3 separate regions of the Homo sapiens genome follow, and regions 1 and 2 are each linked to region 3. Evidence: fine-mapped expression QTL. A gene starts in region 3. Each other region holds a variant in brackets. All regions are shown on one strand. Distances are from middle to middle. Region 1 overlaps FBXO11 (F-box protein 11). Region 2 holds the start of LOC124907765 (a long non-coding RNA gene). Region 3 holds the start of MSH6 (mutS homolog 6).

Evidence for each region. PIP is the estimated chance that this variant, and not a neighbour inherited with it, causes the effect. A credible set is the group of variants that fine-mapping cannot tell apart.
Region 1: its variant is the best candidate, but not a certain one, in a credible set for the expression of MSH6 in whole blood (INTERVAL, PIP 0.85).
Region 2: its variant is the best candidate, but not a certain one, in a credible set for the expression of MSH6 in whole blood (INTERVAL, PIP 0.81).

Annotation. Positions count from the first base shown.
Region 1 is chr2:47,874,435-47,884,943 of GRCh38, forward strand. All of the region lies in intron 1 of FBXO11 (F-box protein 11), which reads right to left. It also overlaps the pseudogene RPS27AP7. Among named protein-coding and RNA genes, the nearest start is that of FBXO11, 27 kb to the right of the region's middle. The variant A/G (reference allele first, on the strand shown) is at 4,817.
Region 2 is chr2:48,043,785-48,054,293 of GRCh38, forward strand. LOC124907765 (a long non-coding RNA gene) reads left to right here and starts at 3,578. Exons shown (of 2, transcript XR_007086314.1): 1 at 3,578-3,980. RefSeq lists enhancers at 3,215-3,739, 3,740-4,263. The variant T/C (reference allele first, on the strand shown) is at 5,727.
Region 3 is chr2:47,775,712-47,785,594 of GRCh38, forward strand. MSH6 (mutS homolog 6) reads left to right here and starts at 7,434. Exons shown (of 10, transcript NM_000179.3): 1 at 7,434-7,782. The coding sequence starts at 7,523. RefSeq lists silencers at 5,675-5,856, 7,007-7,486, 7,767-7,926, 8,127-8,216 and an enhancer at 6,807-6,876.

The DNA.
Region 1 (10,509 bases), 99 kb after region 3:
GTGCAAGACAACTTTTAAAATAAATTTTAAAAGGAACTTAAATACAGCAAATACCTCTTTGTACTAAGTAAGTTTAACACACAAACACCGTACAAAATTTAAAAAAAAAAACAATTTTGAGACAGAGTCTTGCTCTGTTGCCCAGGATGCATTGCAGTGGTGCAATCTCAGCTCACTGCAACCTCCAACTCCTGGGTTGAAACAATTCTTGTGCCTCAGCCTCCTGAGTAGCTGGGACTACAGGCATGTACCACCATGCTCAGCTAATTTTTCTATTTTTAGTAGAGATGGGATTTCACCATGTTGGCCAGCCTGGTCTCTAACTCCTGGCCTCAAGCGATCCACCCGCCTCAGCCTCCCAAAGTGCTAGGATTATAGGCATGTGCCACCATGCCTGGCCACATACAAAATTTAAAAAACATTGTCTCAGGACTTTTTTTTTTTTTTTTTTTTAAAGCAAAAAGGGATGGTTCAGGTTCATGTTGTGAAATATTCCTGTTGAATGACTAACTGGATAAAAATACCATATTTTCTTTGTCAAAACGTCTTCTGCATTCAATTCTTAAGTCTGAGAAAATTCATACAGGATATGATCATCTCAAGAATCAAAGTCTGACTTCATTTATATGCTCAATTTCACTATCATTATTGGCGTATGGAACAGCAATATCTAATATAACTTTCCACAACGATGACAATGTTCCGTATCTGTGCAGTCCAACATGGCAGCCAGCCACCGTGAAGTAAGAGTAATTGTAAGTTGTATTCTTCTCCTACATAACCCCTTAAAAGTGTGATGAGGAATGGAATTTTAAATTTTATTAATTTTAATTATTTTAAATATACATAGTCACATGTGGCAAGTGGCTACCATATTGGACAACTTAGGTCTAGAGTGCTATTTATCTTCGCGTTTATCTTCTAATTCGTATGTCTCCTAAATTTTTTTATACGTTTTTGAAGTAGGATGTAGTATTTGAGCAATGCAGTGAGAAAACTGAAAAATGACTATTTATTACATCTTCCATCTTCCTTCTAGGAGATTCTGTCATTCTTTTTTTGTCTTTTTTTTTTTTAGCACAGTATAAATAATTGATAAGTAATGATAAAATTCCTAGAGTAGTAAAATATTTCAATATATAGGAAAAGCCAAGATTATTAAGATCTCATAATGGATGTTAGGTTTATAAAAAAGGGTCTAATGGACTCATATGGTAACTGTAAGATAGAATAATTTTTTAAAATAAATTTTCTCTTTGTTCTTTGGTAGATCTCTAAGAATACAAGTCATAATATCTACCCTTCTAAATAGTTGGCACTGCTCTAAAATGAAAATCAAAAATGAAAATTATTCCAACTGACCCTGATGGTATACCAAGGGTTTAGCCTTCTTCATTCTCTTATTTTCATTCCTTTAGTTCTGCTGGTCTGGAAGACATCTATTTTATTTCTATTCCTTTTGTGGTTACTCAGGTTAAAAAAGAAAAGCAGCAGCAGCAGCAAACATGTATAGAGTAGTACTAATCAGTGGCTTTATATGTATTTCACTTAATCCTCCCCACAACAACTATGAGAAGGTATTATTGTCATCCCCAATTATACATAAGGAAATTTACGCGTAAGAAGGTAAAATAACTCCTTAATGTCACACAGTTAGTAAGAAATAAGCTAGTCTTTCATTCAGGTAGTCTGGCTGCAGAGCCACAAAATAGCTATTTAGTTTTGGTAAAATACCCTGAAGTTGGTCAGTGTCTCTTTTTGTGCTACTTTTTGGGAACAAAGCAAGAATAGTAGCATTCCTGACTCAACTCTATTTTCCAACTTTCTTGTTATTGTCTAGAGTTTTGATTCTACTTTAAAAATTATGTATTTGCAATCAACTCAACTTGATTTATCAAATATTTTGCCAATTCTTTGTTTGCCACTGTATTATTTTTTGCAATTCCTCCTTCTCCCTGGTTTACTATTCTTGCTGAAGTACAATCTTTGGTTCTCCCATCAAGCTTCTGTAAGTGAGGAGCTCTCTATTTTGTGTATTTCCTCACTTTGGGCCTCATTCTTGCTGACAGATAATAGTTTAAATGAGTATAGAATCAAGGTCAACAGTTATATTCCTTATACATTCGGAGGAAAGAAGATCCTTTTATCTTCTGGAAGACACTGTTCTGGTAAATACGTTGTTAATTTAACTAATATTTTAGTGTAGGGACTGTGGCATTTTTCATTTTGAAAAGCTTTTATGTTTTATGATCTGCAATTTCACTTTTGAGCATCTAGAAGATTTAAAAAATTTATCCTGGTAAGCAACTGTTCAGCAGTGCGCTATTTCAATATGAAAACTCAGTTCAATATGAAACCTTAAATTCTGGAAACCTTTTAATCATTATCTCACTGAATACTGTTTCTCTACTACTATGTCTAATCTCTCCTAAAATTTCTTTTGAATATTGAACTTAGGTTTGAATCTCTCGATCTATATTCATTTTTTTTTTTCCACTTCTCTCTTACTACATTCTGGGTGAATTCCTTAATACTATTTTCCAAATCACTGTTTCATTGACCATGTTCAGTCTAGTACACATCTAATGACATCTTACTTAATACAGGGTTTTTTTTTTTTGAGAGGGTCTTGCTCTGTTGCCCTGGCTGTAGTGCAATCATGGCTCACTGCAGCCTCAACCTCCTGGGCTTAAGCGATCCTCCCACCTCAGCCTCCTCAGTAGCATGGGACCACAGGTGTGCAGCACCACACCCAGCTAATTTTTCTATTTTTTGTAGAGATGAGGTTTTGCTATGTTGCCCACACTGGTAATTTTGGTTCTTTTATGGCAATTATTCCTTCCTTTACCTCCCTGAGGATCTTAAACATACACTTTAAAATTGTTCTATTATTTACACCTATAGACTAAGGATTCACTTGAATATCAATTATTCCCACTCCTGCAAAAAAGAAAACATACTATAAATACTGTTTCATGATTCCCATTTTTTCCCACTAAGCAACAAAACTTAGGAGATATTTCTGTATCAGTACACAGAAAACATTCTCTTTTCCCTCTGATGAAGGTGTTGACTTGGTTATTTTAGGTTTAGTTTTTCTTCTGTATTTTCGAATTTTTGTTTGGCAGGTTCATTGTAACTCTAAGTTGCATGGTGTGTGTGTATCTTTGTGTGCTTACCTTACCCTAACGATTTTTCATTTTCTCCATCTCTCACTCAAACCTCCCACCCCAGAATAAGGTTTTTCGTTTCGTTTTGTTTTGTTTTTGAGATGGAGTCTCGCTTTGTCGCCCAGGCTGGAATGCAGTGGTGCGATCTTGGCTCACTGCAACCTCCGACTCCCAGGTTCAAGCGATTCTCCTGCTTCAGCCTCCCAACTAGCTGGGATTACAGGCGCGTGCCAACACGCCCAGCTAATTTTTGTATTTTTAGTAGAGATGGGGTTTTACCATGTTGATCAGGCTGGTCTCAAACTCCTGACCTCATCATCCGCCTGCCTCGGCCTCCCAAAGTGCTGGGATTACAGGCGTGAGCCACCGTGCCTGGCCCAGAATGAGGTCTTATAATTGCTGCATATGTCTCCTCCTGAAGATCCAGTCCCTAAGTCATGGGCAGGTAGGCCCAGCTTTTACCCAGGAGGCTGTCACTGCTTCCTTCCAGCACTCTGGACCTGCAATTTATATAAGCCATATCCCTAAGCAACAATCATACATTCTTTTTCAGTTTTTTCCTGATTCAGCCCTTTAGTTTCTGGGGTAATAAAAACAGGCTGTTCATCTCCCTGCTCCAATCTGTCTACCAATATACAGTAGAGTTTTGGTCTCTATTCTGCAGACGACCTCTCAGAGGCATCTTCCTGCCTGCAAAACAGATTTTGATAGATTCATGTATTTAGTCTCTATTTAACACCTTGCCTTTTGTTCTTTTTTTTTTCTTTTTTTAAGACAGAGTCTCACTCTGTCACCCAGGCTGGAGTGCAGTAGCACGATCTCAGCTGACTGCAACCTCCACCTCTGGGTTCAAGCAATTCTCCTGCCTCAGCCTCCCGAGTAGCTGGGATTACAGGTGCCTGCCACTATGCCGGGCTAATTTTTGTATTTTCAGTAGAGATGGGGTTTCACCATGTTGGCCAGGTTGGTCTTGAACTCCTGACCTCGAACTCCTCAATCTGCCCACCTCGGCCTCCCAAAGTGCTGGGATTACAGGTGTGAGCCACTGCGTCCAGCATTTTTTTTTTTTTTTTAAAGGAATGAAAGGTCTCAGCCAGGTGCGGTGGCTCATGCCTGTAATCCCAGCATTTTGGGAGACAGAGACAGGCAGATCACCTGAGGTCAGGAGTTCGAGACCAGCCTGGCCAACAACATGGTGAAACCCCATTCCTACTAAAAATACAGAAATTAGCCTGGCGTGGTGGGATGCCTGTAATCCCGGCTACTCGAGAGGCTGAGGCAGGAGAATCACTTGAATTGGGGAGGCAGACATTGTAGTGAGCTGAGATCACGCCACTGCACTCCAAGCGAAACTCTGTCTCAAAACAAAACAAAACAAAAAAGCCTCCCTCCCAATCTTTCCACGTATTCAGTTCCTCTCCCCTTTCTCCAGGTAACGCATGTTAAGATTTCCTTGTCCATCCTTTCCAAGTTTGTGAGTGTAAAAAAAATATGAATATAAATTATGCAGCCCCAGAATTTTGCCTTTTTCTTACAGCTGCATGGTATTCCATTATATGGTTTTTCCATAATTTCTTTGACTAATCCCCTACTGATGGACATCTGGATTGTTTCTCACCTTCTGCTATTACAGAATAATCTGATAC[A/G]TGTATCATGTGGTGTAAAGTATAAGATAAATTTCAGAAAACTCAACCTGCTGGGTAAATACATTTTTACTCTGGCAGATATTGACCAATTGCCTTCCACAGGGATTATCTCAATTTGTATTCTCAATAGCAGTGTATGAGCAGCTTTTCCCCCAAAGCTTCACAACCAATGGAGTATGCTGCCCAACTTTTGTTTTTGCCTAATAAGGGAACTATAATCATTGTAGTTTTAACTTCTCTTACTGTGAATGAGGTACTGGCCTCATTAGCTTAAAAGCCACTTATATTTAATTTTCTGTGAATTATCGATTCATATCTTTGCTCGGTTTTTATGGGGTTGCAAGATCTTTTTGTTATCAAGTTTCCAAGTACTTACTGCATGTATATCAGGAAGGCTACCCTCTGTCTATGATTAAAATTACCAATAAGTTTTGCTAATTCCTAACTGTAAATAAGTTTTGGCTGCAAATAAGTTTTACCAGTTTTGCTGAAACTCTATATCCACTGAACAATTCCCTTTTTCCCCTTCCCCTAGCTACCACCACTCTACTTTGTTTCTAAGGGTTTGACTACTTTAGATATCTCATATAAGTGGGGTCATGCAGTATTTGTCTTTTTGTGACTGGCTTTCACTTAGTGTAATTCCTCAAGGTTCATCTACGGTTGTATCACACAACAAAATTTCCTTTCTAAAGTTTGAATAATATTTCATTGTATGTATATACATTTTCTTTATCCATTCAGAGAAGGTTTTTTTTTTTTGGAAACGGGGTCTCACTCTGTCACCCAGGTTGGAGTGTAGTGGTGCAATCTCGGTTTACTGCAGCCTCCACCTTCCAGGCTCGAGAGATTCTCCCACCACAGCCTCCCGAGTTGCTGGGACCACAGGCACATGCCATCATGTCCAGCTAATTTTTTTGTATTTTTGGTAGAGTCAGGGTTTTGTCATGCTGCCAGGCTGGTCTCAAACTCCTTGGCTCAGGCAATCCACCCAACTTGGCCTCCCAGAGTGCCCTGAGAGTGTTTTAATGTAATAGAATTTATCATTTATTTCATGACTTCTGGATTGAATCAGTATAAAAGGTCTTCCCCATACTAAAATTATAAGAAGACTTCTACTTTTAGTATTTTCATGGCTTTATTTTATTCATTGATCTGTTTGGTATTTATGTGAAAAACATCCAATTTCATTTTTTCAGTTTTCCTGGCTCCTTTCTTGTTTACTTTTCCTTATGAACTGTGGAATCAGAATGTCCAGTGTTTTAATTTATAAAATTAAAAAACATTGTGTTGTTTCATTTGTTGAAGCTTGTTTGGCGTCTTTCACATAAACATTTCCTGCTATGAATGTATTTCCATTTCTCCTTGTATTTTTGGTTATTTCTGCTTCACCAAGTTTGCTATGTTATCTGACATATTGCTATTCACAACTATTAAATTTTCATTGTATCCTTTAAGAAATAAGTGCCACTCTTTATTGTTTTTTAGTATGAACTCCACCTGGTATGTTAAAATCATGACACTCCTAAATTATTTTCATTTGCATTTGTATCTTATACCTTTTCTCTATCTTTTAAAATACCAGTCTTTCACAATCACTGCCTTAGGTGTGTACCTTGTATAAACCAGAGAGTGGGTTTTGCCTTGAATCTAAGCTAAAAATATTTTCCTTCTAAAGGTGAGTTAAGCATATTAATATCTTTTTTAAGAAAGGCATGTTTGGGCCGGGCATGGTGACTCACACCTGTAATCCCAGCACTTTGGGAGGCTGAGGTGGGCAGATCACAAAGTCAGGAGTTCAAGTCAAGCCTGGCCAACATGGTGAAACCCGTCTCTACTAAAAATACAAAAATTAGCCGGGCTTAGTGGCGGGTGCCTGCAGTCCCAGTTACTTGGGAGGCTGACGCAGTAGAATCACTTGAACCCGGGAGTCGGAGGTTGCAGTGAGCCAAGATTGCGCCACTGTCCTCCAGCCTGGGTGACACAACGAGACTCTGTCTCAAAAAAAGAAAGAAACAAAGAAAGGTATGTCTGGTCTTAGGGCTGTCTTGTTATGTATGTGGTTATATAAGAATTTTTTTTCACTAAATGATGTTTTATTTTTAACTGGTTTGTAGTTCTTTCAATATCTAGGAAGGTTTATAGCTTTGTTCTAATGGTTACCTTTGTAATTTCTATCTCTTTAGACAATACCTATTAGTTCCTCAACATGAGTAATGTTAAAATTAGCACGCCTCCTCTCCCATTACCCTATTTAATCAATAGTATTGAAACTAATAGCATTATCTTTAGTGTTTTAGTTTTATTTTAATGTTTCTTTTAAAGTGCTGAATATGTTTATATTTCTATTATTTGATCTGTGATGTTTAAACATCTTTTTCAATACCAGTTATTACCATAGGGCAATTCCTTCTCTCAAATTTTATTAGTTTGATCATTTGTATATCATCAGGGTATACAATATTAACATTATATTCTGTCGTTATGATCTCCACATTTTAGTCTTTTTTTTTGAGACAGAGTCTCGCTCTATCACCCAGGCTGGAGTGCAGTGGCATGCATAATCTCTCACTGCAACCATCTACCTCCCAGGTTCAAGTGATTCTCGTGCCTCAGCCTCCCAAGTAGCTGGGACTACAGGTGTGCACCACCATGCCCAGCTAATTTTTATATTTTTGGTAGAGACAGGGTTTCACCATGATGGCCAGGCTGGTCTTGAACTCCTGGCCTCAAGTGATCTGCCTATTTTGGCCTCCCAAAGTGCTGGGATTACAGATGTGAGTCACCACGCCCAGCCCACATTTTAGTCTTTATGTCTATATATAAATTCACTGCTTACACACCAATCATTTCCCCATGTCTATCAGCTGAAGTTTATACTCTACTATTTTCCTCAAGAAGGGCTCACATAAACAATATTCTCTGAGTACTATTTGTTCCTTAAGAACAATGTGACTGGATATAAAATCTTTAGCTCGCACTTTACTTTCTTATCTTATAAATGTTGTTCGACTGGGGTTGAATGTTGTGGAGAATTCTAAGGCCAGCCAGATTTCAATGTCTTATAAACAACTTGGAGTGGGGTAGTTAGGAAGGTTTCTGGCTATTGAAAGGAATCTTTAAGATCTTTCTGGTCAGTTTTCCCTGCCACAGATGCCCTTTCAATACGTAAGTTTCATCTCAGCTAGTTTTTCTTCAATTGTGTTTTTAACCACTTGTTCTACTGTCATGTTTTGGTTTTCTTCTATAGGGGTTTCAATTCTAAGTTTGTTGGATCTACTGTATTTTCTAAAACTTAAAAAAATAAAATCTTTATTTCCATTTTTTAAAATCCCTGTGTCTCTTATTATGTTTTCCTTGGGGCTAGTCTGCTTCTTGTGCTCCTTCTTATTTCATCTGTATTTCTGTACTATTTTTTGAGACAGGGTCTCCCCTCTGTTGCCCAGGCTCAAGTGCAGTGGGGCAATTTTGGCTTATTGCAATCTCTGCCTGCTTGGCTCAAGCCATCTTCCCACCTCAGACTCCCAAGTAGCTGGGACTACAGACGTAAGCCACCACACCCGGCTAATTTTGTACTTTTTTAGAGACAGGTTTTGCCATGTTGTCTAGGCTGGTCTCAAACTCCTGAGCTCAAGCGATCTCCCTGTCTCAGCCTCCCAAAGTGCTGGGATTACAGGCGTGAGTCCCCATGCCCAGCCATTTGCTTTCTTCTACTTCTTTCCCAAGTTCCCTCAACTCACATTTTATGTCCTCCTGTTGCCCTGCCATCTCTTTTCTGAGTTCTTACCATTCCTGCTTTGTAATCTTCTCTTGTAGAACTATTTACAAGCTTTACTCAAGTCTAAAAAATAGATGGTGAAATGCTGGGTCACAATTTTCATCTGTTCTGTAGCAACACTTCACTAATGACTGTTCTTTGTGTTTGGGAAGTTTTGCTGCCATATCAGCTTCTTTTTTATTTTGCGTAACAGAATAAACTGAATTTTCCTGAAGCAGCTATTTACATAGATTCCTGGGAGTGGGAAAGGAAGGAAATAACAGGCTTCACAGTCCAAAGACTCTCTACTCCTTTGACGCTTTAAATAATAAAGGGAGTGTGTGCTCTTCTGCTGCCCTGCGACCAGTGCCCTGTGCATTGCCTTCTCCTGTATCCCCTAATCTAACTCATCTCTTTATTTCACTCAACCTCAGAGCCGCCACCAAAATGCAGATTTTTGTAAAAACCCTTATGGGGAAGACCATCACCCTCCAGATTGAACCCTTGGATACAACAGAAAATGTAAAGGCCAAGATCCAGGATAAGGAAGAAATTCGTCTGGATCGGCAAACACTGATGTTTGATGGCAAGCAACTGGAAGATGAACGTACTTTATCTAACTACAACATTCAAAAGGAGTCTACTCTTCATCTTGTGTTGAGACTTTGTGATGTTATCAAGGAAGAATTCTTATACAACTCCCAAGAAGAATAAGCACGAGAGAAAGAAGGTTAAGTTGGCTGTCCTTAAATACCATAAGGTGTATGAGAATGGTAAAATTAGTCGCCTTAGTCGGGAGTGCCCTTCAGATGAATGTGGTGCTGCAGTGTTTACAGCAAGCCACTTTGACAGATATTATTGTGGCAAATGTCTGGCTTATTGCTTCAACAAACCAGAAGACAAGTAATTGTGTATGAATTAATAAATTTTTTGGCTGGGCGCAGGAGCTCACGCCTGTAATCCCAGCACTTTGGGAGGCCGAGGTGGGTGGATCACCTGAGGTCAGGAGTTGGACCAGCCTGGCCAACGTGGTGAAACCCCATCTCTACTAAAAATAAAAAAGTTAGCCGGGCCTGTGATGCATACCTATAATCCCAGCTACTTGGGAGGCTGAGGCAGCAGAATCACTTGAACCCGGGAGGCAGAGGTTTCAGTGAGCCGAGATTGTGCCATTGCACTCCAGCCTGGGTGACAGAGCAAGACTCCGTCTCAAGAAATAAATAAATAAAAATTATTTAAAAATACAGAGAAAAGCTGGTTCCTGTACATGTGGCTCTGTGTGCACATGTGTACAGCTCTACTTTCTCTTTTCTGAATATAATCAGGTACTTCGCCACCAACTCCCGTCATTACAAACAAGAGATTTACCTTTTGAACTTCAACATGAACCCCTTACTGTCAGTAAGTATATTTAAACTAATAGCTTCTGTCCCTTTCGGATGTTTTTGATAGCCCTCAAATAACATAATCTGGAGTTTACATATGTCTTTCAGTTCACTGAAAACAGAGGTTGATGCATTTTTCCTCTTTATGATTTCTAGAGAAGATGCAGATTTATGCATCTACATTCATTCGGAAAGTATGATTATTAATTGTGTGTATGTTTATCATTGCTGTCTTTGAAGAGACAGAGAATCTCAATGCTGAAACTCACAGCACCATCCTGATGGCTGTTCCTTACAGTGTAACTTCAGGTATTTTTGAAGTATTTTTTAAAAGCTTTTACATGGGAGATGATTATTGATGCATTATAATTTAGTAATTAAAACTTCATTCTGGCTGTTTAATCAGAAAAACACGGATTCTAATCCTAAGGTTGCCAATTACTAACTCTTGTGAATTAAATTCAGTAAACAGAAGTTTACTGTAAAACAGGTTCTTGTTATGCATAATATATTAATTATACATCATTTCTATTGCGCATCATAAGTCCATA
Region 2 (10,509 bases), 270 kb after region 3:
TCAACAGGGCTATGTTTTTCTTCCATCAGCAAGAAAGACTACTCAGGGACCGGCATATTTACTTTATTGGACCAGTTATGTCAAGTCTAAAGCTACATTTTCCTATGAAACCTATGGGGAAGAATTCTGCTTTGACTCATTTAGCTTCTGTGTTTGCTGGAATCCTTGGCATTCCTTGGCTGATACGTACGTCATTCCAAAGTCTTCCTCTGTTGTCACATAGCTATCTTCTTCCTCTTTGTCTCTGCACCTTTTCTCCTCTTCTTATAAGGACACCAGTTGGTTATATTGGATTAGGGACTCACCCTACTCCAGTATGACTTGTTCTTAACTAACACATCTTCAGTAACCCTATTGTTAAATAAGGTCACATTCCGAGGCACTGGGAGTTAGGACTTTTTTTTTTTTTTTTTTTTTTTTTTTTTTTTTTTTTTGAGACGAAGTCTCGCTCTGTCGCCCAGGCTGGCGTGCAGTGGCGCGATCTCGGCTCGCTGCAAGCTCCGCCTCCCGGGTTCACGCCATTCTCCTGCCTCAGCCTCCCGAGTAGGTGGGCTACAGGCGCCAGCCACCACGCCCAGCTAATTTTTTTTTTGTATTTTTAGTAGAGATAGGGTTTCACCGTGTTAGCCAGGATGGTCTCGATCTCCTGACCTCGTGATCCGCCCGCCTTGGCCTCCCAAAGTGCTGGGATTACAGGGGTGAGCCACCGCGCCCGGCCGGGAGTTAGGACTTTCACATTTCTTTCTGGGAGACACAATTCAACCTATAAGGTTGAGGACCGTGTCTCGGACTTTCTTCACATCAAGGAAACTTAGAGCACTGCTAGGCAGTTTTCTGCTTTGGGTAGAACTGAAGGAAAATTAAGGACTATGATTTCTTTTAAATAAACAGATTTCGGCTGGGCACAGTGGCTCACACCTATAATCCTAGCACTTTGGAAGGTCGAGCCGGGAGGATCTCTTGAGCCCTGGAGTATGAGGTTACAGTAAACTATGATCAACTCCACTGCACTCCAGTCTGGACAACAGAGTGAGACCCTGTGTCTAAAAAATTAAAATAAATTAAAATAAAATGAAACAAATTTTATATAAGGATATAATATGTTTAATTGTAACAGAATAGTACTTTGATATTAACTGATATAAGTTCCCTATGATTCTTTTTATTTATCTTACAGCCCTTCCCTCATTCTTGAGATATAGATTGTCTTAGGAAAGGTTGTTGCAGAAAAATCGGAGAACAAAAGAGTGAAATTTTACCTTTTGAGTTTTAAAAGCTTAGGTCCAGAAAGAAGGCAAAAACATTAAGAATAATACTTGATTAATCAAAGATAGTTCTTTCTCCCTCCTTTCTATCTGAGATTAGATAAAGTGTCCAGAACTGGGGGAGGAATAAGAGGAGCATCTGAGAGAAAGCAGGACCAGTTTTTTGTTCCTCAGCAGGGGTCATATGGCTTGCCCCCAGGTCAATTCCTGAGGAGTATGAAGGAAGCAAGATCTTCCCCAGATGGGAATAGGGATTTAGGAGAAGAGGAAGATTATATCTTGCTTTCAGGGAAGTTTTAATACTTGTAGAATTTTCCTGTCCAGGTAGGATAGAAGCAGAGTTGAGTGTTTCCTCTATCTCTGAGAGGGGCACAGAAGTACTCAAGGTAGAGCCAGCCTGGAGAGACCTAGTGGTCAGGAGCAAGAGGCTGAGAAGGGCTCTGGGACCAAGGCCCAGCTAAATGATGGACATCTCAACACATGCAGTTACAGAGAGATGACGGTGCCTCCCTTCCTATGCCATAAACTCATGTAATCCCAAAGATAGGTCCCTGGATTGACTCACTAGGTTTCTACTACTATATGGAATGAGGCTCATAAAGTAAATTATGTTTGGTTATTAAAAAATAAAGTTAATTTCTTTCAATCCTTAATTTGTGACCTGAGATTTATTTCAACTCCATAAAGAAAATGATCATTCTACACTTGCAAGCTGCCTCATATTTCTAGGTGGCCAGTGGGAACTGAAACTGTTCTCTGGGCAGCCAAGTGTAACATCAGCATTTTCCCAGACTACAGAAGTTATTTCTGTACCATGTTACCCATGTTACCCATTATTCTGAAGCAATCGATGTGTTAAAATGGTAGAATAGTCTTTGAAAGGCTCAGTTATCACACTAGCTGGGTGGCAACACCTTGTGGGACTGGGTCAAGGTCCTTCAGGTTGTGGTTAATGTTCTAAATCAATATCCATTCTATAGTGCTATTTCTACCATGGCAAGCTTTACAAGTCTAGGAAGCAAAAGGTGGAAATGGAAGTTGTTGTTCTCATGATCATCCCTAGTGATCCACTAGCACAATTTTTTTTTCATCCCCAAAATTTTAGGCTCTACTGCTCTAGAAGTCTTAGTTCCAAAGGAAGAAATGCTTCCACCAGGGACACAATGATTCCATTGAACACTCAGTTGAGAAGACTGCCACTTGGCCACTTTGAGCTCCTAATGCCACTGAATGAATGGCATATCAAGAAAGGGGTTACTATACTGGCTGTGTTGACTGATCTTGACTATCAAGGGAAAATTAAATTGTTACCATGGAATGAATGGCTATGTCTAGAATGCAGGAGACCCTCTAGGGAAACTTTTAGTATACTCATATTTTGTGATTATTAAGTCAGTGTAAAACTACAACAACCTCCAATTCAAGCAGAACTGTTAATGGTCAGACCTTTTAGGAATAAATTTGGAAACAGATAAGGAACTGTGACTAGTTACAGGGCTTGATAAGGAAATATGAATGCTTAGTAGAAGAAGGCAGTTATAAATACCAGCTATGACCACATGAACATTGCAGAAAAGAGGACTACGATTGTTGTGAATACTTACTTCGATGTGCATATTATGTATATATTAACCAAATATTTTTGTTTTCTTCCTTCCTTCTCATCTCCTTATCTAATATAATATATGCTAAGTTAACTTTTTTCTCAATACTTAAGTTACAAGATATCAAAAAGTGACATGTGAATCAATTAGGAGAAGAATAAAAGATCACCCAAATCAAAAAGAGGACTTTTTATTCTCTTTACATAAAAGAATTAACGCAGGGCTCAACAAACTATGGCTCATGAGCTGGTCATCTATTTTTATAAAAAAGTTTTTCTTGGAACACAGTCATATTCATTCACTTATGCATTTTCTATGGCTGCTTTCATGATACAATGCTAGCATTGAATAGTTGCAACAGAAACTATGTGACCTATAAAACCTAAAATATTTGCTATCTGGCTCTTTAAGAAAAAGTCTCTGACCCCTGAGTGACCATATTTTTGGTTGCATGGCGATAATTGTATTATGTTAGGCAGAAGCATGACTTTATTATTTCCTTTATTTGGAGGTTAACTATGGAGATATGTATGCCTGCAAACTTGGCAAAGAACAGACTGAAGTGGCTTTGTAACGTGTTGCCTTGACTAGGCTGAACTACATTTCCCAGAATTCCCTTTCTTGAATGTTTCCAGTTAGGCTGTATTACAAGAGAGATTCCCCTGGGGGATTTGGAGACTGTAAATGAAGCAACAGCCATTTTGAAACACACATACCTTGTCTGTTTCCTTGTTGGTGTGGGCAGTGGCCAGGACTGGAACTGCTCCATCTTCCCCTGGATCCTCCTTCAGCTTCTCTGACTCTTGGGCCAGGAGTGTGTGTGTGTGTATCTGTGTGTGTGTGTGTGTGTGTGTGTGTGTGTGTGTGTGCGCCTAATTTCATGACAAAGGGCCCTGGCTTCTGCATGACCAAGGTCAGAGGCAACAAGTACAAACACAGGTTTTTGCCTGTCTTATTGGCTCAAGCTTGTGCTTATGGGTTCCAGCTTGTTCTTGCTCTCCCTATTTTACATCTTGACTGCCTGCCCTGAGGACTTCCAGCTCCAGCATCAGATGCAATGACAATACCCTTACAGAGACTAGTATTCAACCAGCAACCACAACTGCATAAGGTAAAATCTCTATAACACATTTATATATTTCTTAAGGGGTCAATATCTTTGATTAAACCCTGACTGATACATGCAATAAACATTTATAAAAAGGCATTTAAATGTTCTAATTAGATCAATTTTTTTTGCTATCCTTTTGTTGTTAATTTCTAAGTTTTTTGCATTTTTTCAATAAATATACTTGTATGAATGCTGCTTTTTGTTTATGAACATTTTCTTTATGGCCTAATACATGGTTAGTTGTAACTCTTTCCACATGTTTCTGAACAATGTGTAATCTCTGTTGAGTGCAAATTTCTATATAACTTGTTACCATGTTATTAACTCTTGCTATGCTTAATTTTGTGTTTTCGATATCTTTTATAGAGAAGTGTGTTAACTTTTAACATGATAGTCATTCTGTCGATTTCTCCTTGTAAAATGCTAGAATCTTTTCTCTTCATATTTTTTTGAAACTATATTGTTAGGTGCATGGAAGTTCATGACTAATATAGTTTCTTGGTGGATTGTACATTTTATCAATATGAAATACCATTTTTACCCCTTTTAATGTTTTTATACTGCATTAATATTTGCCATTTCTATTATATAATAATTGAGATAATATATAATGTGCTTGGTCTCTCATGTCTGACAATAGGAAGCAGGCAATAAATAGAGGCTGCTATTATTATTGTCATCCTTGTAATAAATATTATTCTATGTCCCACAGTGTGCAGATTGGTTTCTTTGGGAGACAAAGAGGGAAATAAAGGACTAAAGGAATTCAGATTAAGAAAGAGAGCAACTGCCTCTCAGGCACTGCATAATGATGCTTAGAGTTTCTTCTCCTCTAAACAAGGTGATGGAAACTCCAGGGAAGAGAGGCCCCAGGCTTGGACAGATCACCAGAAAGCCTGCCAAAAGAGTCTTCCTAGGCAGCCAAGAGAATACAGCAGAAACAGATTTTCTTGTTGGATCTTGGCCTTTTTGCTTTTGAGGCCCAGCTGAAACTAGGAAGGGTAAAAGCAAAACAAGGTCAGACCTAATAGTAAATGTGCTCCTGTGGTTGGAAGGTTAGAATTATCTCTTCAGAGATTCCCTTGAATTTACATATATTTATTCTAATTCTGATAATAACCCTCTGACGTAGGACTGATGCACTTCATTTCCAGATGAGGAAACTGGTGTTCACAGAGGCGAGAGATGTGGTCAAAGTCTCAGAGCCAGTAAATGCAGAGCCAGGGTTTGAGTGCAGCTATAGCTCCAGAATCCATTCTTTCCACTCTGTCATGCTGCTCCTCAGAGCAGCTCTCAGTGAGTCATCTTGGTGAGGGGCAATGAATTTGGGGTCAGGCGCAACCTTCAGCAAGAGCTGAGATAAAAGTGCAAAATAGAGAGTAAGCCACAAAAGAAATAGAAGTGTTTGGAAATGTTGGAGAAAGGCTCAGGCCCATGTTGAAGCTACTCCCTGAACTCTGTGCCATTTTCCAAATGGACAGAACTGTGATGAGAGACACAGCGATAATTCCTCTGAATGATGTTTCTCAGGTCTGAAGAGATGGAATGCACTGGGGATTCTCTCAGCCTTGCCATTTGAGAATGGAGAGTCAGGGAGAAAGCGAAGGGCTGGAATTAGAAATTCAAATGCAATCTGATGAAACCACTTTTGACTCCACAGTTAGTAACTCCAAGCTGGCTCATTCCTTTAAATCTTGAGCCCGTCTCAAATGTAGTATACGTTAAGCACCAGAAATTACTGATCTC[T/C]CTTTCCATATGGCCAGTGCATCTCCCCACCTCTGGAATGGAAGAAGCAATAAATGCTGAATAAGACATTTCTTCAGGAAAGACCAAGAGCAAACACATTCTAAAGATGAGGAACTTTGTGAAAAATGTAGACCCAGTGCAGGAAAGAAACAGGTTGCTTGGAAGTATCTGCTAGGGATTTTTTTTTTTTTTAAACTAGGTAAGTTTGCCCCAGGCACATTCATTCAAATAATAAAATGAGAATGGTGTTTGCAAGAATTTAAAAAGGTCCTTAAACTCCTTTCTAGTCAGAATAGATTATTACAAAATGTTCAAGATAGCTCTTCAGAATTTCATTTGATGACCTTGACATGAATTTAAAGCAAATCTCTGCCTTAAAAGTTGTATTGGTAGAGTAATTAAAAGTATGTGATGTTCTTTGCAGAGAGGTGTTCATTTGATGAGAAACTAGAGAAAAGCTTTTTCCTAACAATGTTATTGCAGCTCTTTGCAAGAACTTTAGTAAATTCTGGCTTCTGTCCTAGGTTAAGTTAATTAGCAGTAAGTAATTAGTAGTATAGGTAAAGATAATTAGTGTATATAAGATAATGATTGAAGTTAAATCAACCAGGGATGGGGATGGAAAGGTGCGGGGGGGATGGCACAGGCCAAGTTCTGGAATTAATTGCCAGAGGCAAAGTGAGTGAGGCTCCTGAATAGGCTCTGGGCCATATGGTAATCAGAAGGATCTGCTCTAAAGAGATCTTTGATGTTGGTTTATTCTTCATGGGATTCCTGGGATTGAAAGACAAGGGCAGCCTTCTAAAGCCCTACTTGATTTGCAATTTTTTTATAAAATAGGTCTGGTGAATAATACCTAATTTTCATTACTCCCAAATTAAGTTACAGCATTTCACCCAATTTCTACCTGGATGAATTCAGTCCATGAAAAGGGTCAAACTCTGTAAAATATTTGAAGAGAGTTATTCTGAGCCAAGTATGAGTAACTATGGCTGGTGACACAGCCCTCAGGAGATCCTGAGAACACGTGCTCAAGTTGGTAGGGGTGCAGCTTGGCTTTATACATTTTAGGGAGACATGAGATATCAATCAAATACATTTAAGATATACATTGGTTCAGTCCAGAAAGGCAGCACAACTCCAAACTTCCAGGTTATAGGTAGATTTAAAACTTTTCTGATTGGCAATTGGTTGAGTTATTATCCATAGAGAGGAATTGTCTAGGTTATGATAAGAGGTTGTGGAGATCAAACTTTTATCATGCAGATGAAGCCTCCAGATAGCAGGTTTCAGAGAGAATAAATTGTAAATATTTCTTATCAGACTTAAGGTCTGCCTTGATGTTAATGCTGGAGGGTATAAAAAGGCACGTCAGACCCTCACTTCCCGTCAAGGCCTGAACCAGTCTTTCAGGTTAAATTTTAGAGCACACCAGCAGATGAGGAAGTCCATTCAGATGGCTGGGGGTGGCTTAGAATGTTGTTTTTGGTTTTCAATTCACAATGCAGAACTCTTTCATTGAAGAAGTGGTTACACGAAAGGGGCCCCGATCCGGACCCCAAGAGAGGGTTCTTGGATCTCATGCAAGAAAGAATTCAGGGTGAGTCCATAGAGTAAAGGGAAAGCAAGTTTATTAAGAAAGTAAAGGAATAAAAGAATGGCTACTCTAGACAGAGCCACCCCAAGGGCATCTGGTTGCCCATTTTTATGGTTATTTCTTGATGATATGCTAAACAAGGGGTGGATTATTTATGCCTCCCCTTCTTAGACCATATAGGGCAACTTCCTGATGTTGCCATGGTGTTTGTAAACTGTCATGGCACCGGTGGGAGTGTAGCAGTGAGGACGACCAGAGGACACTCTCATCACCATCTTGGTTTTGGTGGGTTTTAGCTGGCTTCTTTACTGCAGCCTATTTTATCAGCAAGGTCTTTATGATCTGATCTTGTGTTGACCTTCAGTCTCATCCTGTGATTTAGAATGCCTTAACCATCTGGGAATGCAGCCCAGTAGGTTTCAGCCTTAGTTTAGCCAGCTCCTATTTAAGATGGAGTTGTTCTGGTTTACACGCCTCTGACATTTCCCCCATCCCTTTTATAGGAGAACCCTTAATCCTAAGGGTTGCAGAGGGATGAAGATCCATCTTCTGCAACTTCTTCAGGCTGAATAGGGGCAATTATGTTCCTGCCTAACTATTAGAGTCTTTTGTGTTTAGGGTAGAGAGGAGCTCAGTCAGAAAGTGTTGGTATGGCGAGGGCCATTCAAAACTCCGAATTCTGACAAAAGGTGATATCTGGAAGATTAATAAGTGTTCAACTTAAGAAAACATTCAGTAAACTTATCCTGCATCCCTACACAAAGAGTACAACAGCAATATATTTCACAACAGTAAAGCAAAATAAGTAAAATTATTCCAGGCAAACTAAATTAGAAGGCTTTCCATGAACTAGGCAACTGTTGGAACCAAGCTGATATGGGGTTGCTAGAAGATTCCACTGTGTGCCCAGGATTAGAATATTGATCCAGGTTTTTACATCACCCATCTGAGCAGCAGCCAGAGATCACTGGTTGGTTCACAGGAATAAACAATGTTAGCCTAAATTGCAGAAACAATCTTAAAAACAATTGATGATACTAGAATCTAATAACAACTGTACCATAGTTTTTGAAACATAATTTTTCTCTCCAGTTTCCCATATTTACTAAAGACAAATTATGGTAAGACTGATTTGCTTTATTATGCTTTGTCTGATTATTTGTATAAAGTGCAGCAGGAATAATTATTTTTTCACATAGGCTTTTTGTAAATTGGCTTTGATGGAACTGTTTCATAGAAGGAATCTCAGATAAGACTTTTTTAAAGCCAAGGCCAGCCATGGGTTTGTGCCCTCAAATATCTAAGAGTTGAGTAAATTCCTCTCCTCTTGGGGTCCCAAGATAACCTGGGGCTCCTGGACCTGTTCAAAAGTGACATTCTTTACTTACAACAGGTCAGAAACCTTGTACAGGGACTGTTGTAGGCGAGGTATGAGGCTAGTTCCCCAAGGGGCTTTTATTGGCTCTATAAGTCAAATTTGAGTTCTTAAAGGAAAGCATGCCATTCCGGACAGTCTTGGTAAAATAACCAATTTTTCCAACTGTGTCCTGTTGCAAAAGAAAACAGATTCTTATTGCACTTATGCAAATAACTATATTGCCATAAATTTAGAATAGTTAGAAATAGTTTCCAAATTCTGGAGAAATCAGGTAGGAGAAACAAATAGGCTCCAAATTTTGTCCACAGGGGTATACTTTACTCAATTGTTGAAAGCTATAAATAGCTTAAAAGAAAAGTTTTCTTAACTCTGCAAAACAAAACAAAGGATCAGTAACTTTTTTATTTTTTATTTTACTTTAAGTTATAGGGTACATGTGCACAACGTGCAGGTTTGTTACATATGTACACATGTGCCATGTTGGTGTGCTGCACCCATTAACTTGTCATTTATATTAGGTATATCTCCTAATGCTATCCCTCCCCCTCCCCCAATCCCACGACAGACCCCGGTGTGTGATGTTCCCCATCCTGTGTCCAAGTGTTCTCATTGTTCAATTCCCACCTATGAGTGAGAACATGCGGTGTTTGGTTTTCTGTCCTTGCGATAGTTTGCTGAGAATGATGGTTTCCAGCTTCATCCCTGTCCCTACAAAGGACATGAACTCATCCTTTTTTATGGCTGCATAGTATTCCATGGTGTATATGTGCCACATTTTCTTAATCCAGTCTATCATTGATGGACATTTGGGTTGGTTCCAAGTCTTTGCTATTGTGAATAGTGCCACAATAAATGTACACGTGCATGTGTCTTTATAGCAGTGTGATTTAAAATCCTTTGGGTATATACCCAGTAATGGGATGGCTGGGTCAAATGGTATTTCTAGTTCTAGATCCTTGAGGAATTGCCACACTGTCTTCCACAATGGTTGAACTAGTTTACACTCCCACTAACAGTGTAAAAGTGTTCCTATTTCTCCACATCCTCTCCAGCACCTGTTGTTTCCTGACTTTTTAATGATCGCCATTCTAACTTGTGTGAGATGGTATCTCATTGTGGTTTTGATTTGCATTTCTCCGATGACCAGTGATGATGAGCATTTTTTCATGTGTCTGTTGGCTGCAATAAATGTCTTCTTTTGAGAAGTGTCTGTTCATATCCTTTGCCCACTTTTTGATGGAGTTGTTTGATTTTTTCTTGTAAATTTGTTTAAGTTCTTTGTAGATTCTGGATATTAGCCCTTTGTCAGATGGGTAGATTGCAAAAATTTTCTCCCATTCTGTAGGTTGCCTGTTCACTCTGATGGTAGTTTCTTTTGCTGGGCAGAAGCTCTTTAGTTTAATTAGATCCCATTTGTCAATGTTGGCTCTTGTTGCCATTGCTTTTGGTGTTTTAGTCATGAAGTCCTTGCCCATGCCTATGTCCTGAATGGTATTGCCTAGGTTTTCTTCTAGGGTTTTTATGGTGTTAGGTCTAACATTTAAGTCTTTAATCCATCTTGAATTAATTTTTGTATAAGGTGTTAGGAAGGGATCCAGTTTCAGCTTTCTACATATGGCTAGTCAGTTTTCCCAGCACCATTTATTAAATAGGGAATCCTTTCCCCATTTCTTGTTTTTGTCAGGTTTGTCAAAGATCAGATGGTTGTAGATGAGTGGTATTATTTCTGAGGGCTCTGTTCGGTTCCATTGCTCTATATCTCTGTTTTGGTACCAGTACCATGCTGTTTTGGTTACTGTAGCCTTGTA
Region 3 (9,883 bases):
CCCCACAGGGCTTATCCAGTTCCATCATACTTTGGCTCATTGTGAAATGGCAAAGGGGGCAAAAGCAGCCTGAGGGGAAGGGAAAGATTTATATTTATAGTGCATACATTAGACGCCTGGCAGCAGTTTTCACTTCATCTCATTCCATCCTCCCAATACCTCCATAAGCAAATATTAGTGAATCCCCATTTATCAGATTAGGAGACCAAGGCTCAAGTGCAAAAAATTTACCCAGGGTGCCCAACCTGTACCTGAGGTTGCCAGGATTGAGAACAGGTCTGCGTGGCCTCAGAGCAGGGCTGATCCCAGAACAGTGAATGCAGAGGGCAGGAATGGCCAGTCAGTTGGGAAGCAAGACTGGGGCCAGACTTTGGAGATCAGAGGCTGAGACCATATTAGAAAAGTACCTGGCAATTCCACCTAGGATGGCTTTGGAGAGCTAGAGAAATACTGGTGCTAGCCCTCCCCATCTCTCTATCCCCCAGGGCCATTTGTGGTCTGAGATAATGAAAGTTTCCAGCCAGTTAGTCGAGGTGGCTCATGTCTGTATTCCCAGCATTTTGGGAGGCTGAGGTGGGAGGACTGCTTGAGCTCAGGAGTTTGAGACCAGCTTGGGCAACATAGGGAGACCCCATCTCTACAAAAAAAATTTTAAAAATTAGCCAGGCATGGTAGTAGCATGCCTGTAGTCCCAGCTATTCTAGAGGCTGAGGCAGGAGGACTGCTTGAGACCAGGAGGTTGAGACTGCAATGAGCCATGTTCGCACCACTGGTGACAGAGCCAGACCCTGGCTCAAAAAATAAAATAATAATGGATGTTAGTCACAGGATGGAGAAGATAGCTGGAGTGGGGGAAGGGAGTGCCTCCAGGCTATGGAAGCCCTCAGGCCCATCTTTCCTCTCTCCAAGTGGACTCTGGGTCTGTCTTCCCCAGCCATCCTCCCAGAGCCTCCACCACACCTTTGGTACTTAGGGGAGTACACAAGAGGCTTTGATTTCTGTACCCTTGCTGACCAAAGGCAGAGTGCAAGTGCTATTTCTTTCCACCTGACTTGCACAAAGTTTCTCCCCTCCTTTTTCCTGAGAATTGAGAAAGTTAAAATAAGCAAGGAATGAGAAATCTGAAACATTCCAGGCCATTCATCTGGCTGGGATAACAAAGATAAAGTCAGCTACAAAGTTAAACAGGAAACACAATCTGTCCCAAGGATAAACTGCCATCCCAAAGTAGCATAAGGAAAACTTTTTTTTACTCTTGACAATCTCAGAAATCTTGTTCTCTAAAGTCATAGGCTTTCAGAAACTTTGCTGGCTGAAATTATTGTTATTATTTATTTATTTAGAGACAGGGTCTCAGTCTGTCACCCAAGCTGGAATGCAATGGTGCGATCACGGTTCACTGCAGCCTCGGCCTCACGGGTTCAAGTGATTCTTCCACAACATCGCCAGTAGTTGAGACTATAGGCATGCATCACCATGCCCAGCTGGTTTATTTTTAATTTTTGTGTTTTTTTTTTTTGTAGAGAAAGGGTCTCACTCTGCTGCCTAGGCTGGTCTTGTACTCCTGGGCTCAAGGAATCCTCCCACCTCGGCCTCCCAAACTGTTGAGATTACAGGCGTAAGCCACCTCCCCTTGCCTTGCTGTTTGAAATTATATCAGCAAAAATGAAACATCCCACTCTTGCCTGGAGCGTCTTACTTTGACACAGAAACAGCTTTGATTTACAACCCAGGTGTGTAACTTTAGATACGGGATTTGTGGACGCTATTCCACATCTATCTTAACTTTGCTGTTTCCAAGGAAATGCGACCTTGGGTGGACTTTGTAGTTTAGCTTTGTCTTTACACACAGCTAGATTTGAGCTTTCAAAACACTGTTTCAGGTAAATTTATCCTAAACTCCACCCTCTCCCTCCCTTTTGTAGTTTGGTGAGACACCCCCATGGTTCGTCTGCTGTGGAGGCTCCCCCGTTGCAACCAGCAAAACAAACCCTGACTTTGGCAGACTACAGGCTTGTCCCTGGTGATCGTGAGCTGCTTGGGCTAGGACGGAACCCTCACAAAACATGCCCCTCCTTTCTTCATCCTTGACTTTATCTCCCAAGGCCCAGGACAAAGACGTAGATTGCTGGGTCACGCTGTTCCTTGGACGGGCAAAGGGGGGAACACAGGGCACTGTATTCTTCTGGAGAATACTTGTTTTCTTCTTCTGTTTTGTGTGTGTGTGTGTGTTGTTTTTGTTTTTTTTTTCTGAGACAGGGTCTCAAGGTAGGAGTGCAGTGGCCTGATCATAGCTCACTGCAACCTCAAGCTCCTGGGATCAAGCAATCTTCCTGCCTTGAGCCTCCCGAGTAGAGAGTAGTTAGGACTATAGGCACGTGCCACCACTCCTGGCTAAATTTTTTAAATGTTTTTGTAGAGAAGGAGGCGGTTCTCACTATGTTGCTAGCTGGTCTTGAACTCCTGGCCTCAAGTCATCCTTCTGTCTTGGCCTCCCAAAGTGTTGGGATTGTAAGTGTGAGCCACTGTCCCTGGCCAGTTGGTGATTTATTTGTATAACTGTCCAATTTATTGAATACGTATGGCGTGCCAAGCACTGGGCTGAGGGCTTCATAATGCCCTTTCACTCAATGCTTAGCACAACCCATGAAGAAGGTAGTGTTAATATCATCCCTGTTTTACAGATGTAGAAACTGAGGCACAGGCTAAATAACTTGCCCAACAAGCTCGTGCAGTTTAGTAAGCAGCTCAGCTGGGATGTGAACACAAACTTTGAATACAGAGCTCTTAACCAGTAGGCCAGAGGTTCCCAAACACCTAGTATATTTACTACCTTAGTACTTTCCTGCCACATCTCCTAGGCCAAAACAACTCCATTGATTGTTATGCAATTTACTAAGTGTAGCCATTTGAAAAAAAAATACATATAAAAGAAAAATATTTTTATTCAGTTTTCAAAATAACCCATATATAGTCATGGAATGTATGTGTTGGTTGGGCACTGCAGACTAAAGACAGTTTAGGGCCGGGCACGGTGGCTCAGGCCTGTAATCCTAGCACTTTGGGAGGCCAAGTAGAGAGAAGGGCTTGAGCCCAAGAGTTGGAGACCGGCCTGGGCAACATAGCAAGACCCAGTCTCTACAGAAAATAAAATTATCAGGGTGTGAGGACGCACACCTGCAGTCTTAGCTGCTTGGGAGGCTGAGGCTGGAGGATCAGCCTGGGCAACAGAGTGAGACCCTGTCTCAGAAAAAAAAAAAAAAAAAGACAGACTTTTATTCAGATATGCATGCAGGAGTTCACAGAAAAAAAAAGTGAGTCCAGGAGGCTGTTATTTGGCATTTATACAACTTTTTTTTTCTTGAATCTCGAAATCTACTTTATATATACCATTTAATAGGGGAAGAGGAGGGAGAAAAAGCCTTCCATGGGAAGAACAAATAGGTTTCTGGGGGAACAAAAGGGAGATAAGAATGTTTGTTTTTGCAGGTGCAAGTGGTCTTTGTCTTTTTTTCTGGCCACTAAAACTCCCCTAGAGAGGAGATTTACGGCAGCTTCACTCCCAGAAATTTCTGCTGTTAGTCGCATAAGGGAAGCTTTGAAACGGCATCTTTCTGCATCTGTTGGCTCTCAAATGTCTTCAGTTCCAAGTAACATTCATGCCAATTCTGGGGGTCTGAGTGTCCCCACATAATACATGTGTTCTCTTGTCTTTTAATGAAGTTTGTGGGAGGCATCTAACTGTAGCCTCCAAAATTTGGCCCATAGGTACTACTGTCCTTATCAAAGACGAGGAAACAAGTTCAGAAAAGTATTAATTGCTCCGAGTTATCTGCTTGGCTAGCTAGGATCAGAGCTCAGTTCTCCATTTAACCCAAAGCCCAGGCTCTTAACCTCTTACAACTGGCGCATCCCCTCTGAACCTCCATTTCCTCCCTGTAAAAGAATAACATCGGCCGGGCGCAGTGGCTCACATCTATAATCCCAGCACTTTGGGAGGCAGAGATGGGCGGATCACGAGGTCAGGAGTTTGAGACCAGCCTGGCCAACATGGTGAAACCCCATCTCTACTAAAAATACAAAACTTAGCTGGGTGTGTTGGTGCCTGTAACCCCAGCTACTCAGGAGACTGAGGCAGGAGAATTGCCTTAACCTGGGAGGCGGAGGTTGTGGTGAGCCAAGATCGTGCCATTGCACTCCAGCCTCGGTGACAGAGCAAGACTCCATCCCCAAAAAAACAAACAACAACAACAAAAAGAGAATAACGTTATATTCAGTTGAACCAAAATGAATTAAATATTAATATTTGTACTTCAAAAACGGTCCAGCTTGGCTGGGCGCAGTGGCTCCCGCCTGTAATCCCAACATTTTGGGAGGCCGAGGCAGGAGGATCATTTGAGGTCAGGAGTTTGAGACCAGCCTGGCCAACATGGTGAAATCCTGTCTCTACTAAAAATACAAAAATTAGCTGGGCAGTAGTAGCGCGTGCCGGTAATCCCAGCTATTCAGGAGGCTGAGGAAGGAGAATTGCTTGAGCTTGGGAGGTGAAAGTTGTGGTGAGCTGAGACTGCACTACTGCACACCAGTCTGGGAGACAGAGTAAGACCCTGTCTCAAAACAAAACAACCAAAAAACCAAAAAGGTCCAGCTTGGGCAACATAGTGAAACTTCGTCTCTACAGAAAATTTTTAAAATACTAGCAGGGCACCGGGCACAGTGGCTCATACCTGTAATCCCAGCACTTTGGGAGGCTGAGGCAGGCGGGTCACTTGTGGTCAGGAGTTTGGGATCAGGCAGGCCAACATGGTGAAACCGTGTCTCTACTAAAAAACAAAAATTAGCTGGGCATGGTGGTAGGCACCAGTAATCCTAGCACTCAGGAGGCTGAGGCATGAGAATTGCCTGAACCCGCAAAGCAGGGGTTGCAGTGAACCAAGATGGCGTCACTGTACTCCAGCCTGGGTGACAGAATAAGACTCCTCAATTAAAAAAAAAAAAAATTAGCTGGGCATGGTGTTGCGGGCCTGTGGTCCCAGGTACTCAGGAGGCTGAGGTGAGAGGATTACTTAAGCCTGGGAGGTTGAGGCTACAGTAAGCCAAGATCACGCCACTATACTCCAGCCTCTGTGACAGAGCCAGACCCTGTCTCAAAAAAATTTTAAAAAGGGCAAATTTTGGCAATTTCACATAGTTCAACCTAGTATAAGGTGGTTGTAATAACTAAATGAGATAAAATGGTGTTAAATTGGAAGTATTATAGTATTTCTGTTAACAACATAGGGCTCCAGAACCAGCTTCCTTGAGTTTAAATCCAGGCTCCACCACTTCCTAGCTATGCAGTCATGGGCAAGTTACTTGACCCAACTGTGCCTCAGCTTCATCCATGATATGGAGATACAGGATAACCAGCCTCTTACGTGCAATTCTGAAATCCAAAAAGCTCTGTAAACCAAAAGTTTGGGGGTAAACTCATTTGGTAGCAAATTTTGACCTGAGGCTATTTATAGTCTATATTCTGTATTCTTTCTACTTAGTATGAATAAGCATGTAAGTTTTACTGCATGTTTGATTTCAGCATGTTCCCCCAGACTCTCTGGGGGTGTTTACGTATGCCGGTGGGGGAAAGAGACCAACTCTCAAATATTATCTCAAACAGTTGGTTTCACTGTGCTTGCTTGGGTAGCACATATACCAAAATTGGAATGACCCCTGCACAGGGATGAAATGCAAATTCGTGAAGCATACTGTATTTTTCTTAGCACATACCACCTTTGGCAATATTCTTTTTTTTTTTTTGAGAGGGAGTCTTGCTCTGTCGCCCAGGCTGGAGTGCAGAGGCGCGATCTCGGCTCACTGCAAGCTCCGCCTCCCGGGTTCACACCATTCTCCTACCTCAGCCTCCCCAGTAGCTGGGACTACAGGCGTGTGCTACCACGCCAGGCTAATTTTTTGTATTTTTAGTAGAGGCGGGGTTTCACTGTGTTAGCCAGGATGGTCTCGATCTCCTGACCTCGTGATCCGCCCACCTCCGCCCCCCCCCCGAAGTGCCGAGTGCTGGGACTACAGGCGTGAGCCACTGCGCCCGGCCCCCGCCTTTTTTTTTTAGATTGATTTTATTACTTGCCTAGCAAAGGAGAACCTTCTGGCAGAACAGTCTCCAAGAACAAGGCAAACAACTAATTTTACATAGGTTTTTACCAATGTACAGCTGTTGATTGTGACTGGTTTCCGGCAATCTGGATTTCACAATCTGGATAAGGGGACAAACAATTGTCTGTCTTCCACTATCTTTCTTGAATTTGAATAGAACCTTTTTATTCTCATAGCCTCTTAGCTTTCTTTCTTTTTTTTTTGAGACGGAGTTTCGCTCTTGTCGCCCAGGCTGGAGTGCAGTGGCGCGACCTTGGCTCACTGCAAACGCTGCCTCCCAGGTTCAAGTTATTCTCCTGCCTCAGCCTCCCAAGTAGCTGGGATTACAGGCGCATGCCACCACGCCCGGCTAATTTTTGGATTTTTAGTAGAGACGGGGGTTTCACCATGTTGACTAGGCTGGTCTTCAACGCCTGACCTCAGGTGATCCGCCCGCCTCGGCATCCCAAAGTGCTGGGATTACAGGCGTGAGCCACTGCGCCCGGCCTCTCATAGTCTCTTAGCTTTCTAAAATTTGAAAAATCCTGTAAAGACACACCTGGGTCAAAGGGCTCAGATAACGGACTGTGGCCCTTAAGTACTTACGTCACAGGTTATTGAGAGGATCGATTTAGTTACCAGATGTAAAATGCTGGGATCAGTGCCTGGCAAAGGAAAACTTTGTACAGCTGCAGGCTTTCACCATACACAACAGCATCGCTAACGAATGCTATTACAATATTCATTTAGCGTTTACCAAGTGCCTACTCTATACAAATCTTGAGAATACAACGTGAAGGTGAACTGCTGACTAAAGTTTGGTCCCTTTCGCTCCGTCTCCTTGCGAAAATGCTCTAACGGCAGGAGGTCACGCGAGCGCTGGACGCGTTTCTCCCCGCGAGCCCCTTTCCGAGGCCTTTCGGGTCCCCCCGGTTATCCCCGCCCGGGCGGTGCGCGCCCCCGCTGTTCCCGCTTCCGCTCCAGAGAGGCAGGGCTTTCCGAGCCTGCTAGCCCCGCGGCCGCAACTAACCCCGGGTCGGAGTGTTCCGGCCCGGCCAGCCCCGCGGCGTGAGGGAAGGGGAGCTCAGCAGTTCCCCGCGCGGGGCCCAGGCGTCGGCGGCAGGGCGGGCCCCTCACCGCCAGCGTGCCAGCCCCGCCCCTACCCACCAGTGTGCCAGCCCCGCCCTTCCCCACGTCGCCGCGCGCCCGGGGGCGGGGCCTGGCGCGCACCGCCCGCGCACGGCGAGGCGCCTGTTGATTGGCCACTGGGGCCCGGGTTCCTCCGGCGGAGCGCGCCTCCCCCCAGATTTCCCGCCAGCAGGAGCCGCGCGGTAGATGCGGTGCTTTTAGGAGCTCCGTCCGACAGAACGGTTGGGCCTTGCCGGCTGTCGGTATGTCGCGACAGAGCACCCTGTACAGCTTCTTCCCCAAGTCTCCGGCGCTGAGTGATGCCAACAAGGCCTCGGCCAGGGCCTCACGCGAAGGCGGCCGTGCCGCCGCTGCCCCCGGGGCCTCTCCTTCCCCAGGCGGGGATGCGGCCTGGAGCGAGGCTGGGCCTGGGCCCAGGCCCTTGGCGCGCTCCGCGTCACCGCCCAAGGCGAAGAACCTCAACGGAGGGCTGCGGAGATCGGTAGCGCCTGCTGCCCCCACCAGGTAGCGGGGTGGGGGTGGGGTCGAAGGCGGGGGCATAGCGGCGGGGCGCTTGGAACCCGGCGAGGGGAGGCTCGCACAGGGGGTTGGGGGGGTGCACGGCCTGGCCCTGGGCTCGGAGGAGGCGGGGCCGCAGAGTTGGCTTGAATGAGTGCAGGGGTCGAGTCTGGAGCATTTGGGGGTGTAGCTTGTAAACAGGGTCGGAGGAGAGAGGCTGTGCAGGAAGAGGGCTGCAGGGGAGACGCGGAGAGTTCGGGCCTTTTGGAGGGAGGAGACGCGTCCCGCCAGGTGGGGGTGCTGGGCTAAGGAAGGGGCGACGCGCGCAGCTCCGGGTGGGGAGGGGGCCTGGGAGGTGGGAGCACTGGGGGTGGGGCGAGAAGGGGAAGGCGCCCGGCCCACTTGGTGGGCGGGGCGGGGGGCGGGGTGGCGGGAAGGAGGAATGCCTGCGGGAGGCCGAACGGGGAGAGTCCGGTGGTGTGGGGTGCGAAAGGAGGTTCCTCGGCCGGCGCGGAGATAGTGAGTTGGGGCTCCAGTAGTCGATCGAGGTAGACACTTAGAGGTAGTTAAGAGCCGCGGTCGCCGAGACGCCTTGGGGACGGTGGGCCTTCGGCCTAGGTGAGGGGCCGCCGAGGGGGTGGGCCACGAGCTGCGAGCGCGGGGGGGTGTGTCACCATGGGGACCGCGGGGCCTAATTGGGCGGGGCGGGGCCGTGGGGAGCCGAAGTGCTGGGATCCGGCTGGGTCCTTCGGTAGGTAGGCTGCACGTGCACCGAGACGAAGATAGAATATTTTGACGTATGTGGAAATTCGTGTCGAGTGGAAAATATTTTATTTTATGAAATAGTGTAATTTTTATGGGGCACCACTGGGCTTTTAGAGGCCTTAATCGGGCGCTGGACAAAGATGTGTGGACGTGAGTGACTCCGGGGAAGCCTGTCGGGAGTTGTCCTCACTTTATGGGCAGTTAAGTGCTTTTTTTTTTTTTTCCTTTTTGAGAGAGAGTTTCGCTCAAGTCCAGGCTGGAGTGCAATGGCGCGATCTCAGCTCACCGCAATCTCCGCGTCCCGGCTTCAAGCGATTCCCCAGCTTCAGCCTCCCGAGTAGTCGGGATTACAGGAATGCGCCCCCACACCCCGCCAATTTTGTATTTTTAGTAGAGACGGGGTTTCTCCATGTTGGTCAGGCTAGTCTCGGAATTCCCGACCTCAGGTGATCCACCCGCCTCGGCCTCAAAGTGCTGGGATTACAGGCGCTAGCCACCGCGCCCGGTCTGTTTAGGGCTTTTTATCCGGGCAGCTGGCGACATTTTGAAAAGCTTGCTTTTGCTGTTTGCCAGATACATATATATGTATTTTGAGACAGAGTCTTGCTCTTTTGTCCAGGCTAGAGTGCAGTGGCGCGTTCTTGGCTCACCACAACCTCTGTCTCTGGATCAAGAGATTATCCTGCCTCAGCCTCCCAAGTAGCTGGGACTACAGGTGCGCCCCACCACGCCTGGCTAATTTTTGTATTTTTAGTAGAGACGGGTTTCACTATGTTGGCCAGGCTGGTATCGAACTCCTGACCTCTTGATCGGCCCGCATTGGCCTACCAAAGTGCTGGGATTACAGGCATGAACCACCGAGCCCGGCCGTTTGTCAGATACTAAACACAAAGTTTAATGGTCGCTATTTGAACAAACGAAGAAATAAAGGCTCAGAAAAAATAACTCATTCAAGATAAGAGCCAGTTCGTGTTTTTTGTTTGGTTTTGTTTTGAAATGGAGTCTCGCTCTGTCGCCCAGGCTGGAGTGCTGTGGCGCTTTCTCGGCTCACTGCAACCTCTGCCCGCCGGGTTCAAGTGATTCTCCTGCCTCAGCTTCCCGAGTAGCTGGGATTACGGGTGTGCCCACCGCGGTCCGGCTGATTTTTCACCATGGAGTTTCACCATGTTGGCCAGGCTGGTCTTGAAACTGCTGACCTCAAGTGGTCCACCCACTTCAGCCTCCCAAAGTGCTGGGATTACAGGTGTGAGCCACCGTGCCCGGCCGCTAGTTAGTGGTTTTGAGTAATGGATTTCAAATCCATTTAAATCCAGTTTAAAGTGTCCTAAAGGAATTCTGAGAT